Regions from separate parts of the Homo sapiens genome. Here all the other regions are linked to region 3. The links come from fine-mapping of genetic effects on gene expression. A gene starts in region 3. Each other region holds a variant in brackets. All regions are shown on one strand. Distances are between the middles of the regions. Region 1 has its middle 15 kb from the start of CXCL11. Region 2 has its middle 6.9 kb from the start of CXCL11. Region 3 holds the start of ART3 (ADP-ribosyltransferase 3 (inactive)).

Evidence for each region. PIP is the estimated chance that this variant, and not a neighbour inherited with it, causes the effect. A credible set is the group of variants that fine-mapping cannot tell apart.
Region 1: its variant is the best candidate, but not a certain one, in a credible set for the expression of ART3 in sun-exposed skin (GTEx, PIP 0.58).
Region 2: its variant is the best candidate, but not a certain one, in a credible set for the expression of ART3 in pituitary (GTEx, PIP 0.67).

The regions. Positions count from the first base shown.
Region 1 is chr4:76,050,028-76,052,788 of GRCh38, reverse strand. It overlaps a transcript of ART3 not described here. Among named protein-coding and RNA genes, the nearest start is that of CXCL11, 15 kb to the right of the region's middle. The variant C/T (reference allele first, on the strand shown) is at 1,190.
Region 2 is chr4:76,041,562-76,044,322 of GRCh38, reverse strand. It overlaps a transcript of ART3 not described here. Among named protein-coding and RNA genes, the nearest start is that of CXCL11, 6.9 kb to the right of the region's middle. The variant C/T (reference allele first, on the strand shown) is at 1,304.
Region 3 is chr4:76,073,535-76,076,295 of GRCh38, reverse strand. It overlaps ART3 (ADP-ribosyltransferase 3 (inactive)), which reads right to left and starts at 1,587. Exons shown (of 12, transcript NM_001130016.3): 1 at 1,477-1,587; 2 at 338-415. The coding sequence starts at 406.

The DNA of each region.
Region 1 (2,761 bases), 24 kb after region 3:
AAGCCGAGATCGTGCCCGTGCACTCCAGCCTGGATGACAGAGCAAGACTCTGTCTTAAAAAAAAAAAAAAGAAGGAAAAAAGAAATTGGGTACACGCATGTTCTCACTTACAAGTGGGAGCTAAATAATGTGTACACATAGACATAGAGTATGGAATGATAGACAGTGGAGACTTGGAAGGGTTGGGGGCGGTGGATGATGAGAAACTACTTAATGGGTACCATGTACATTATTCTGGTGATGGATACACTAAAAGCCCTAATTTCACCACTATGCAATATATCCATGTAACAAAATTATATTTGTATCCCCCAAATTTATACTGACAAGGAAAGGAAAGGTAGATGGCTACCAGTGGCTCTCTCAAGCATGAGAAGTTCCGTATGGTGATACGGTAGTCACTGAAAACTGGCCCTTATTCTGTGCATGCACTTGCGACTGCAATGTTTGGGGTAGCACATATCAAGGATGAAGTCATCCTTATAAAATGTGAGCATTGATATATCTCATTCTCAAATACCAGACTACATTAGCAGAATACAACCTTTGGAAATCTCTTCTTATGTCAAAGTCCCAGAAAGAGATAAAGCATATTGACCAGGCAGGTCTCAAAATCCTGACTTCAGGTGATCTGCCCACCTCAGCCTCCCAAAGTGCTGGGATTACAGGCGTGAGCATGGCGAAACCCCGTCTCTAATAAAAATACAAAAAAAATTAGCTGGGCATGGTGGCAGGCGACCGTAATCCAGGCTACTCGGCAGGCTGAGGCTGGAGAAAGGCTTGAACTCAGGGGCGGAGGTTGCAGTGAGCTGAGATTGCGCCATTGCACTCCACTCCAGCCTGGGCAGCAAGAGCGAAACTCTGTCTCAAAAAAAAAAAAAAAAAAAAAAGAGAGAGAGAGAGATACAACATAAACTCAGAAACATCCTTATTTAAAATTCATTGTCAGCCAGGTACAGTGGCTTATGCCAGTAATCCCAGCACTTTGGGAGGTTGAGGTGGGAAGACCACTTGGGCACAGGAATTCGAGACCAGCCTGGGCAACATGGCGAAACCCCAACTCTACCAAAAATACAAAAACATTAGCTGGCTGTGGACGTGTGTGCCCATAGTCCCAGCTACTCAGGAGGCTGAGGTGGGAAGATGGTTTGTGCCCGGGAGGCAGATACTGCGGTCAGCCGAGATCACG[C/T]CATTGCACTCCAGCCTGGGCGATAGAGCAGGTCTAAAACAAACAAACAAAAAATTCATCATCACTTTGGAACTCTTTTCAATGGCATTAAAACATGCATTATTCCTCAACGTCTTAATGATTTTAATGTTATTTATACAATTTACTCCAAGTTTTGATGAAAAAAATAGAGCCTTACCCAGTGCCTAATGGCTACCTTGAATATAGCCTGCAGAATCTGTCTCATTTCTGGGACGGGTATTTTAATAATATTATAAGAAACTCACAGTAGTATTCTACTAAGAACTCTTAAAAAAAAATCCACCGGCAGCTCCCTAAAGTCATTGGCATGCCTAAATCCCTCTAAAAAACAGCATCAGGTACTATACTACTGTACTTTTGAGAGGTGACAGTGTGCTGGCAGTCCTCACAGCCCTCGCTTGCTCTCGGCACCTCCTCTGCCTGGGCTCCCACTTTGGCGGCACTTGAGGAGCCCTTCAGCCCACTGCTGCACTGTGGGAGCCCCTTTCTGGGCTGGCCAAGGCCGGAGCCGGCTCCCTCAGCTTGCAGGGAGGTGTGGAGGGACAGGCGCCAGCGGGAACCAGGGCTGCGCGTGGGCTTGCAGGCCAGCTGGAGTTCCGGGTAGGCGTGGGCTTGGCGGGCCCCGCACTCGGAGCAGCCCGCCGGCCCTGCCGGCCCCAGGCAATGAGGGGCTTAGCACCCGGGCTAGCAGCTGCGGAGGGTGTACTGGGTCCCCCAGCAGTGCCAGCCCACTGGCACTGCGCTCCATTTCTCATCGGGCCTTAGCTGCCTTCCTGCGGGGCAGGGCTCAGGACCTGCAGCCCGCCATGCCTGAGCCTCCCACCCCCTCCATGGGCTCCTGTGTGGCCCGAGCCTCCGCGACAAGTGCCACCCCCTGCTCCACGGTGCCCAGTCCCATCGACCACCCAAGGGCTGAGGAGTGCGGGCACACAGCACCGGGACTGGCAGGCAGCTCCACCTGCAGCCCTGGTGCGGGATCCACTGCGTGAAGCCAGCTGGGCTCCTGAGTCTGGTGGGAACATGGAGAACTTTTATGTCTAGCTCAGGGATTGCAAATACACCAATCGGCCCTCTGTATCTAGCTCAAGGTTTGTAAATACACCAATCAGCACCCTGTGTCTAGCTCAGGGTTTGTGAATGCACCAATTGACACTCCGTATCTAGCTATTCTGGTGGGGCCCTGGAGAACCTTTGTGTCGACACTCTGTATCTAGCTAATCTGGTGGGGATGTGGAGAACCTTTGTGTCTAGCTCAGGGATTGTAAACCCACCTATCAGCGCCCTGTCAAAACAGACCACTCAGCTCTACCAATTAGCAGGACGTGGGTGGGGCCAGATAAGAGAATAAAAGCAGGCTGCCCGAGCCAGCAGTGGCAACCCGCTCAGGTCCCCTTCCACACTGTGGAAGCTTTGTTCTTTCACTCTTTGCAATAAATCTTGCTGCTGCTCACTCTTTGGGTCCACACTGCTTTTATGAGCTGTAACACTCACCGCGAAAGTCTGCAGCTTCACTCCTGAGCCAGTGAGACCATAAGCCCACCGGGAGGAACG
Region 2 (2,761 bases), 32 kb after region 3:
AGGGGAAGAATGTGGTTTTCACACTAACCAGTCGGGGATAGTATGAGATGCCGCCCGGCGTTTACAGGAAAAGGCTTCTGAAATCAGACAACGCCTTTCAAATTCTTATACCAATCTCTGGAGTTGGGCAACATGGCTTCTCCCCTTTCTAGGTCCCATGGCAGCCATCTTGCTGTTACTCGCTTTTGGGCCCTGTATTTTTAACCTTCCTGTCAAATTTGTTTCCTCTAGAATCGAGGCCATCAAGCTACAGATGGTCTTACAAATGGAACCCCAAATGAGTTCAACTAACAACTTCTACCAAGGACCCCTGGACCAACCCGCTGGCACTTCCCCTGGCCTAGAGAGTTCCCCTCTGAAGGACACTACAACTGCAGGGCCCCTTCTTCACCCCTATCCAGCAGGAAGTAGCTAGAGTGGTCATCGGCCAAATTCCCAACAGCAGTTGGGGTGTCCTGTTTAGAGGTGGGATTGAGAGGTGACAGTGTGCTGGCAGTCCTCACAGCCCTCGCTTGCTCTTGGTACCTCCTCTGCCTGGGCTTCCACTTTGGCGGCACTTGAGGAGCCCTTCAGCCCACTGCTGCACTGTGGGAGCCCCTTTCTGGGCTGGCCAAGGCCGGAGCTGGCTCGCTCAGCTTGCAGGGAGGTGTGGAGGGACAGGCGCCAGTGGGAACCAGGGCTGCGCACAGCGCTTGTGGGCCAGCTGGAGTTCTGGGTGGGCGTGGGCTTGGTGGGCCCCGCACTCGGAACAGCTGGCCAGCCCTGCCGGCCCCGGGCAATGAGGGGCTTAGCACCCAGGCCAGCAGCTGCGGAGGGTGTACTGGGTCCCCCAGTGGGCTGGCACTGCACTCGATTTCTCATCGGGCCTTAGCTGCCTTCCTACAGGGCAGGGCTCGGGACCTGCAGCCCGCCATGCCTGAGCCTCCCACCCCCTCCATGGGCTCCTGTGTGGCCCGAGCCTCCCTGACGAGTGCCACCCCCTGCTCCACGGTGCCCAGTCCCATTGACCACCCAAGGGCTGAGGAGTGTGGGCACACAGCACCGGGACTGGCAGGCAGCTCCACCTGCAGCCCTGGTGCGGGATCCACTGCGTGAAGCCAGCTGGGCTCCTGAGTCTGGTGGGGACGTGGAGAACCTTTATGTCTAGCTCAGGGATTGTAAATACACCAATCAGCCCTCTGTATCTAGCTCAAGGTTTGTAAATACACCAGTCAGCACCCTGTGTCTAGCTCAGGGTTTGTGAATGCACCAATCGACACTCTGTATCTAGCTATTCTGGTGGGGCCCCGGAGAACCTCTGTGT[C/T]GACACTCTGTATCTAGCTAATCTGGTGGGGATGTGGAGAACCTTTGTGTCTAGCTCAGGGATTGTAAACGCACCAATCACGCCCTGTCAAAACAGACCACTCGGCTCTACCAATCAGCAGGACGTGGGTGGGGCCAGATAAGAGAATAAAAGCAGGCTGCCCGAGCCAGCAGTGGCAACCCGCTCAGGTCCCCTTCCACACTGTGGAAGCTTTGTTCTTTCACTCTTTGCAATAAATCTTGCTGCTGCTCACTCTTTGGGTCCACACTGCTTTTATGAGCTGTAACACTCACCGCGAAAGTCTGCAGCTTCACTCCTGAGCCAGCGAGACCACGAACCCACCAGAAGGAACAAACTCCGAACACATCCGAACATCAGAAGGAACAAACTCCAGACGCGCCACCTTAAGAGCTGTAACACTCACCGCGAGGGTCCGTGGCTTCATTCTTGAAGTCAGCGAGACCAAGAACCCACCAATTCTGGACACACTTTTAAGAGTTTAGGATTCTACATTAATCTGTTCAGTCTATCTATATTATTTCAGGTGTCTATTACATGCCTGGCAACCTCTTCCCTAGGAGTGAGTCATCTGTCTTCTAACACTCAAAACAGGATTCTTTTAAGTCATACTTATTTATAATAAATGGAAACATTAGTTTTCATTTCTAACCCACTTTTCACTAACTTAACTGAATAAAATATCCTTGATACTACCTTTTTTCTTTTGTCAGGCAATATATTATTCAGAGACCTGGTGAATGGTGAGTTGGAAATTATTTTTAAATAGCTTACATTAATCTCTTTTAACTTGGAAACATTTTAAAATTCTACATTAATTGGCTAACTTAGCAGCATTAATAAAATTTCAGATGAAGCACAGATTACAGATTTTTTAAGCTGAAAAGGTGATTACTTATGGAAACTAGATTCCATCATTTCCTGGGATGCTCCTATGTCTTTAAATTAAAAGCAAAACTTATTTAAGTGGGTGAACCTGGGAAAATAAAATAAAGTAGTCCAATTCTGGAAACAATAAAAAAGGCCAACACTGCTAAGAACACAGAGAATGTATCTGATCTTTTTTGCATTTAATCAAAGAAAAAGAGCAATGAGATATAATGACTTAGAGAAAGAAGAAAACAACTAGGGAAATTTACAGGAGTTTGACAGTTATCTATCTGCCTCTCCAACCTCAGCTTTAGTTTAAAATAAGTATGGAGTCAGTATATAATACATGCCAAATGAATAACTAGACCTTCACTGTCCAATATGGTAGCCACTAAACACATGTTATTATCAAGCATTTGAAATGTAGCTAGTTCAATTTGAAGACTTAGTAATAAAAGGTAAAATATTTCATTTAACATTTTTATATCCACATTGATTACACATTGAAATAATATATTTTCATGCTTAATTAAAGAAAATATATTTAAATTAATTTCATCTGTTTCTTTT
Region 3 (2,761 bases):
GCGGTGGCTCACGCCTGTAATCCCAGCACTTTGGGAGGTCGAGGTGGGCGGATCATGAGGTCAGGAGATCGAGACCATCCTGGCTAACATGGTGAAAACCCGTCTCTACCAAAAATACAAAAAATTAGCCAGGCGTGGTGGCAGGCGCCTGTAGTCCTAGCTACTGGGGAGGCTGAGGCAGGAAAATGGCATGAACCTGGGAGGCGGAGCTTGCAGTGAGCCGAAATCGAGCCACTGCACTCCAGCAGTCTGGGCGACAGAGAGAGACTCCGTCTCAAAAAAAAAAAAAAACGAATTTCCATTCCAATGACCACATGCTTCCCATTCCCAACATTACCTGGAAAATGTCCACTAGAATCATGGTTGCCAGCAGCATGGTGACTATTTCAAAATGTCCCGTCTTCATTTTTCTCTTCTAAATTAAAATAAAGAAATTTCAATTCAGTAGACTCAAAAAAGAGGTGTAGGGAAGTAGAATAGGATGACACTGCGTATTTTTTCATTTAGAATGTGAGTGGATAGCATGATGGTCAGGAAGTGATTATCAATAAATTCCTAACGGGCTACAAGAGCCATTAGGCTTTATCTAGTGGTCTAATGCTCTCATTCTACAGACGAGGAAACAAAAACACCTTAGAATTTCAGTGATTTGCTCAAGATTAAATCTGTGCATTTCCATACTCCTCCAGACATGTCATCTCTCCCACCACAGTCACTGGGAGTCATATTTTCTTCCCATCTCTAAATCTCCCCTCAGCGTGCACAGGAAATAACACAATCAGACTAAAAAACAGCAGTCTCAAATTGGTCCCCTAGCTCCCAGTTTCTAAGAATTCCCCAGGAATATGTCCATGCACATTATCCATTCTTCTATCCTCTTTGCACATTGTCATGCCCTTTTGAGTGGGACAGAGGAGATGATGAGGTCAGTAGTGGTACAAAGCAGTGGATTGTCAGAGATGGCCCCCTTCCCCCAAATACAATCAAGAGAAGCCCGAGGGTAAAATAAGTGTCTTACATAACTTTCTGAAGGCGGGAACAAGAATAAGAAGGAACTGGGTAGGCAGCAATTCTAAGATTATACAACTATTGGCCGAATGCCTAATATTCATCCCAGTATTTATGATAATGTAACTCAAATGAAGCTTCTATTTTACCCTACCAATCACCATATTCTGGATTCTAAAAATGAGAATGAACAGCACAGGGGAAGGGAGAAGTCTTCCCTTTTATAGATCATTTTGGCCTCAGTTTCCCATATTTCTTCAGAAGCAGTTTTGTTTTGTTTTTACTAAAAATACTAAAATATAGTACCAACATGCTACTTTGTGTTAAACTTCTCTTTCCAAAAAAGATTTGAATATAAGATGATAGATATCTGTCACAAGGCAATATGTTTTAAGCAAGCTTTGATCAGGATTTTCCTAAAAATTGTTCATTTCTTTAGTCTGAGTGTAAATAAGTCAAAAGGTTTACCTGGCTTTTGTGCCTTTGGAGGAAGTTTAAGTGATGCTAGGCCTCAAACTGACTCCCCACTCTCAGTTGTGGTAAGCAAGTCTTCAGGATGGGATGTTGTTGACAGTGAGAGCTGAGACAGGAATGCTTTTCTTTTTATAAACACCCCCAGCAGTAGCTTGGCAGTGGCACACTACGCTACTTGTGTTCTGCTATTTATATCTGGCCCCCCCACACTATGCCTTGGAATCACTGCTGTTAACACTTTAAATCTCCAAGAGGCTTGTAAAGCCATAGCAATTCCCTTTAGCCACACAGCACATTCAGTTCTGAGCCCACAGTTCTGGGCTTCTCTCAGAGAGAAATGACTTCCCATTCCTAATCCTTTGACACTGAGATATCAAACTAAAGCATGGATTTTACTCTAGGCTAAGTGATTCACATAACTAGGGAAACTTGCTCTGTTAATCACTGGCAATGGTGACAGCTATCACCATTCGCTCAACTAGCTTACTATATTTCAGGTACCTCGTCAGGAGTCGGGATACATAAGCAAGTAAAACAAAGTACTAAAAAGCACTCAAAATCTAATAAAAAACATGAATACGCATACTTAACCAAAATACAACATGTTAAGAATCCCAAGTATAGACAAAGTCCAGTGATAACATTAAGGAGGGAAGGATTTGGTAATGCCTGCAACTACAGCTGTCATTTGAGTAACGCATACATGGTAAATATACTGACTGCAATGCTGAGGAACACTTAGGGTTCACTGACTGTGGATTTAAAAAACACAAAAATGTCCAAAGAAATTCACGCATACATACACCAAAATACATTAATAGAATGTTGATAGTAGCACTATTCATAATAACCCCCAAACTGGAAACCAAATATCCATCAACAGTAGAATGGTTAGACTGTAAGTGAAATTTTATATAGCAATGAAAACGAACAAACTCTGACCATATATAACAATGTGGATAAATCTCACAAACAAAATTTTGAGTAAAAAAAGAGATACAAGCATGTTTATACTGTATGATTTAATTTATATCAAGAACAAAATTAGGCAAAACACTTCCAAGGCATGAGAAGTCAGAATAGTGGTCACCCTGGGTAGTAGCTAGTAACTGGAAAGGGCACAGAGGAGCATCTGAGATGTTAGCTGGGTTCTGCTTTTTGCTATGGATGCCAATTACATTGACAAATTCAGTTTGTGAAAATTCAGTGAGCTATATACTTATGATATGTGTTTTTTTTGTACACACATATATTACTTCAAGAAAACATTTTAAATTAT